Regions from separate parts of the Homo sapiens genome. Here region 1 is linked to region 2. Evidence: fine-mapped expression QTL. A gene starts in region 2. The other region holds a variant in brackets. All regions are shown on one strand. Distances are between the middles of the regions. Region 1 holds the start of CTRB1 (chymotrypsinogen B1). Region 2 holds the start of BCAR1 (BCAR1 scaffold protein, Cas family member).

Region 1 (2,896 bases), 32 kb before region 2:
TTATATCATGAGTCATTGCAGAAAAAGTGAATTCTGTTGGGTTCTACAGCACAGGTGGGACGCGTGTCAGTGGCTTTGCCCACCTGTTACGGCCACCAGCGGGTTGGTCCTTGTCACCCAGACCCTCGCCACAGTCAGAAGTGGCTTGGCTTCACTGGTGACTTGCAGTGACACTCTGGAGAATCCACGATGCCCTGAGTCACCCTTTGCTTCTAGGACAGTGTTAGGCGGAAACACCCTTCACTGAGAGCCTGAGTTCCCGGAGACCTGGTTCCATGACAGCAGCTGGTCCTCCACGAGCCCTGGGGTGGAACTGCCTCCACTTCCCCTCTGGGAACAGAAGAGCCTGGTGCCGTCTCCTGGCAGGGATACTGCAGCTCACAGCTGGCTCTGTGGGATCATGTCCCCAAGGCTGACCGGTGATGTCAGCGCAGCTGCCCCTTTCCCAGGGACTGGGGTTGTCTGGTAGAGAGCCAGGCGGGGCTCTGTCTCCACTTATTGCCCAAGGTCCCTGGGTAACAGGGAGGGTGGGCTCAGGCCTCCCTGGCTGGGGGAGCGGGGGGGGCTGGGCTCCCTGCCCCCCCAAGGTGGTAAAAGGGGCCCCGCAGCTGGCAGGCCCCACACCTTCTGAGGCAGCGGCATGGCTTCCCTCTGGCTCCTCTCCTGCTTCTCCCTTGTGGGGGCCGCCTTTGGTGAGTGCTGGTGCCCGAGGGGTCTGTCCTGAGGGAGCCCTGAGCCTGGCTGAGAGGGGGATCTGAGTCCCCTGCTCTGCCCCCTGGGGCCTCATCCCCAGCACAGGTAACCTGAGGGCTCAGGAGAGGGTGCATTCTGGGGCTTTCTGAGCCCACACAACCTGCTCCAGGAGTGGGAAGGACGATGCTGGTCTCTGCCATGGTCTGAGGCTCCAGAAGTGGCTGGGGTGGGGGTGCCTTGTGCAGGGTAAGGTGTGGCCCCAGGAGACCTCCCAAGGCCTCCACCGGGGTTTTTATTGTGCTGGGTACTTGTCAAGCATTTTCTTCCTTTCTTTCTTTTTTTTTTTTCGAGACAGAATTTCACTCCTATTGCCGAGGCTGGAGTGCAATGGTGCAATCTCCACTTACTGCAACCTCCATCTCCTGGGTTCAAATGATCTTCCTGCCTCAGCTTCCCGAGCAGCTGGGACTACAGGCATGGACCACCAACCCTGGCTAATTTTTAGTAGAGACGGGCTTTCACCACGTTGGCCAGGCTGGTCTTGAACTCCTGACCTCAGGTGATGCCCCCGCCTCGGCCTCCCAAAGTGCTGGGATTACAGGCATGAGCTACTGTGCCCAGCCGTGTTTTCTATTTTTTAAAAGAGAAATAGTAAAAGAAAATACAGAAAAGAATATGACATCCTTGTATCTACTGTCAGAATTCAGCAAATCTTTTTGCACATTTGCTTCAGATATTTCTAAAACAGATTGTACTCAGGCTTCCCTTTTCTCCCTCCTTCCCTCTCTGGAATGTGAGCTTGATTCTGAACTTTCTATGAATAATTGCAGTGTGAGCTTATACAA[T/A]TGTACTACATATTTTTATACATCTATACATAAGGTTTCAAAAAGGTTACATCAATGGAACGGTATTCTATCCTGTTTTTGGTTTTGGTTTTGGTTTTGGTTTTGAGACAGGGTCTCACTCTGTCACCCAGGCTGGAGTGCAGTAGTGTGAGTTTGCAGCCTCAAACTCAAGGGCTCGAGTGATCCTCCCACTATAGCCTCCCGAGTAGCTGGCGCTACAGGCACGCTAAGTTTAAAAACTTGTTTTGTTTTGTAGAGATGGAGGTTTTTTTTGTTATTTTTTTTTCTTTTCTTTGAGACAGAGTTTCACTCTTGTCACCCAGGCTGGAGTGCAGTGGCGTGATCTTGGCTCACTGCAACCTCCGCCTCCTGGGTTCAAGCATTTCTCCTGCCTCAGCCTACTGAGTAGCTGGGATTACAGGCATGCATCACCACACCTGGCTAATTTTTGTATTTTTAATAGAGATGGGGTTTCACCATATTGGTCAGGCTGGTCTTGAACTCCTAACCTCCAGTGATCCGCCCACCTCAGCCTCCCAAAGTGATGGGATTACAGGCGTGAGCCCCCATGCCCGACCTGGGGTCTTATTATGTTGTCCAGGCTGGTCTCGAAATCCTGTGCTCGAGTGATCTGCTCACCTCAACCTCCCAGGGTGCTGGATTACAGGTGTGAGCCACTGTGCCTGGCTGATGTAACTAATACTCCATTCTACCTCCATTCTACAACAATGTGCTTTTTCCCTACTCAAATCTTCTCACTTCCTGCATGTTGACGTGGAGTTTCAGCTCATTCACCTGCATTTTTATAATGCGTGCTCTGTTGTGTGAGTATGCCACCATCTAGTTCTCTTATTTATTTATTTATTTTTTTAGATGGAGTTTCACACTTGTCGCCCTGGCTGGAGTGCAGTGGCATGATTTCGGCTCACTGCAACCTCCACCTCCCAGGTTCAAGCATTTCTCCTGCCTCAGCCTCCTGAGTAGCTGGAACTACAGGCATGAGCCACCACCCCAGCTAATTTTTGTATTTTTAGTAGAGACAGGGTTTCATCATATTGGCCAGGCTGGTCTTGAACTCCTGACCTTGTGATCCACCTGCCTCGGCCTTCCAACGTGCTCTTTCTCATTTTTTTGCTATTACAATACCAGTTTTTGATGCTCTGAAACGTCAGGGAGGCACCTTGCCTGCCTGTGTTCCTGTGGGCAGGAGACGCAGGGGCTGCCTTGTAAGCAGGCGAATATGACCCCAGAAGGGGACAGCTGGTCTGAGGGACGCGGGTGTGCTCAAATGTAAAGCCCAGTTTGTTGGGTTGGCCCGCGCACAGGAGTCGAGAATCTGGTCCTGACATAGCAGAGGC
Region 2 (2,896 bases):
GGCCGGCCAGCCCCCACCACCCAACTCTCCACCGAGGGAAAGGAATGGGCACAAGAGGGGGCGTGTCCCGGCCCAGGGCGATGGGAAACATCTCACTAGCAAAGAAGAGATCAACCCATGGTCATTCTGAGAAGGTGACCAAAGCTGCGGCGGGCCCCGGGAGGGGTGTGGGAAAGGAAACCAGGGACTCTCAGGAGGGAACGGGAGCCTTGTGGTAGAAAAGGAGCTGCTGTCCCCGATCTGGAACTCGAAACCCCAACATCTTCCAGGCCGTAAGCCCCTCACCCCGCACCCCTAGGCAAATCTCCGCTTTCCCAACTCCCTCACCTCGGTCCAGCGATCAGCCTCTCGGACCCTCGAGAGGGAGCTCCGACCCTGCTCTAGCTCTTGCGGGTCCCCCAACCATGGACTCCAAAGCCTTCATGTCCACACTGCAGAACCCGGCCCTGGCCCCCTCCCGCGACACTCGCGTGCGGCTAGGACTCCTGTGGCCAGGACCCGGCTTCCACCGGCGCTCGGCGTGCGGGGCTGCAAAGCCCGCGGCGCGCCCGCCCCCACTCCCGCTCCGCTCCCGGAACCCCGCGCCGGCGGCCGGAGTGAATCATTAACTGGAGCCGGGTGCTCCGGCTGCGCAGCCTTCCCCGCTGGCGCCACGCACTTGCCCGCCCGGCCTCGGTCCCCCGGAGCTCCTCCCTCTCCGGGAGCCGGTGGGCAGTCCCCACGCCACACCAGCCGGACCACCCGCCAGAGGCTCAACGGCCCCTCCTCGCAGCCGAGGAAACTGAGGCTCGGAGGCAGGGCGCAGAGGCCCAAGGTGACACAGCAGGCGGCCGTCGGCCGGGGAGCGCGGGCCCCGCCAGCCACTTTCCCGACACAGGAACCCTCCTACCGGCTGGCGGCCCCCGCGCCCGGCCCCGCCAACGCACCCGAGGCGCACAGGCTCCGGAGCCCCCGCGGTTCCTGCCTCCCGGCTTCCCGGCCAGGGCAGAAGGAGATCCCAGGGCCGCGGACCCCGGCCGGCGGTTCCCAGGCCCCGCAGGTCCGGCAGGAAATGCCGCTCGCTTAACCCCTTCCAGCCCGCTGCCGCCTCCAAGCCCGTACGCGGCCCGGCCCCACCTGGCGCCCTCACCAGGTGGTTCATGGTGTCCGGCGGGCCTGGGGCCCCGGCTCTCGCGGGGGCGCACACCGAGCTGCCCGGGCCGCGTGCCCTCGGGGCTCCGAGCGCGCCGCAGCCGCCCCGGTGCCGCCGCGCAGCTGCCGCCTCGGCCACCCAGAGCCGGTCCAGCCGCTCTCCGCCTGCCGCCACGGCCCAGCCGGCCCAGCCCGATCCCAGCATGCCCGGCCGCGCGCGCCCATTGGCCGCCGCCGCTCTCCATGCAAATAAGCCGCCTGTCGGGGGCGCGGGCGCGCAGACAGAAGCCCGCCCAGTAGGGGCCGCCCCCCGCCCCGCCCCCCACCTCCAACCCCGAGGCTCCAGGCCCCTGCCCGAGGCCAGGCTTCCAGCCTAGGGCGCAGGACACCGCTCTCCAACAAATGCACGTCCCCGCCTTCCACCCAGGCGAGAACGCACCGAAGGCCTACGCAAACTCCTCCACTTCTGGGAAGGCTGCCCGGTTTGCCTTCTTCCTCCAGAGCCGAGACATGGCCTCAAGTCGACTTGTCTTTCCCGCTAACCAACCCCAGGGCATTCATCGCGTGTCCATGGGCCGTGGGACTCAAATCTGAATCTAGAGGGAAAGGGGAGGGGGCGTGCCCCAGCCTGTAGGAGACGAATCATCACCACCACAGCTCCGACTGTAGACGGTCCCACCGTGTAAGGACCCCAGGAAATGAAGCCTCAAGCAGGGAGGCTGGCGAGCTCTCGACCCAGCGCTTTTCACGGGCAGCACCTACCTTCCCCTGCATTGTGCCGACATCTGGGGACTCGGGCTGGTCCTCCAGCTGATCTGCCTCCTCTCATTACTCATTCCTAGGTTCAGCCTAAAACCTGGGCCTAGTACCCTCCTGAGTCCTGCTCCAACTCATCTGCTTCAGCGACATGGGGTAGGAGAGCGGCACTGGGGGAATGAGGGAGATAGAAGGAAGAATCACTCGGGGGAAACCGAGTGGAGACAACCTTGGCTCTCCTGAGTTGCCCCTTGCTCGGTTGCAGGTCAGTGACTGTCACCCCATGCAGCAGAACCAGGGTGCCAGAGCCCCTGGGCCAGGCCAGGGAGGCACAATCTGCAGGGAGATGATAGGACCGAGCCTGGTCCAGACCAGACAGGACCCTCAGTCAACAATCCTGGGCCACTGGCTGAGCAATGGGATGCCACGAGGCAGCCCTGGTGGCAGGGAAGCAGCGGGGTAGACCCGGCTTCACGCAGCAGAGAATTCTCAAGCATGGCCTATGGAAGACACAAGCCCAGGTGGGCCTGCAGCTGCCCCTCTGTCTGACCCCCAGGGCTCAGCCTACGCAGCGCCTGGCCAGATGTGCCACCTTGGCAGGCCCTCTCCCCTCTCTGGGCTCCTTTCTCATCTGAAAAGGGGCTAGGACAGCCCATGATTTGCTGCTCAGGTGCTCTGGGGAGCTAGTTAAAAAACAGACTCCTGTGTCCCACCCCTCCCAAAAAACTGGACGTCTGCATTTCTTCAATATTTGGCTTGGGAAGCATTGGCCAGAACTCACAGCACAGCGGGTGAGGAAGGAGCAGTGGGATGAGACAGAGCATGACCCAGAGTCCTCAGGAGGAACAGAACAGCTAGCCAACACCCTGTGCCTCCCCGACACAGCCCGCCTCGCCTCAGAAGAGGAGCCAGCCTTCAGGGAAGCTGCCTGGAGCATCTCCTCCTGCTTGTTCCCAAGAGCTGTGCCGGGCCCCTCCTGCACCCTGACCCTGTCCAGCCACCCACTCCT

What was found. PIP is the estimated chance that this variant, and not a neighbour inherited with it, causes the effect. A credible set is the group of variants that fine-mapping cannot tell apart.
Region 1: its variant is the best candidate, but not a certain one, in a credible set for the expression of BCAR1 in unexposed skin (GTEx, PIP 0.77).

The regions. Positions count from the first base shown.
Region 1 is chr16:75,218,368-75,221,263 of GRCh38, forward strand. CTRB1 (chymotrypsinogen B1) reads left to right here and starts at 621. Exons shown (of 7, transcript NM_001906.6): 1 at 621-692. The coding sequence starts at 641. RefSeq lists an enhancer at 159-238. The variant T/A (reference allele first, on the strand shown) is at 1,539.
Region 2 is chr16:75,250,342-75,253,237 of GRCh38, forward strand. BCAR1 (BCAR1 scaffold protein, Cas family member) reads right to left here and starts at 1,283. Exons shown (of 7, transcript NM_014567.5): 1 at 1,130-1,283. The coding sequence starts at 1,141. RefSeq lists silencers at 1,166-1,325, 1,386-1,495 and enhancers at 1,495-2,035, 2,576-2,896.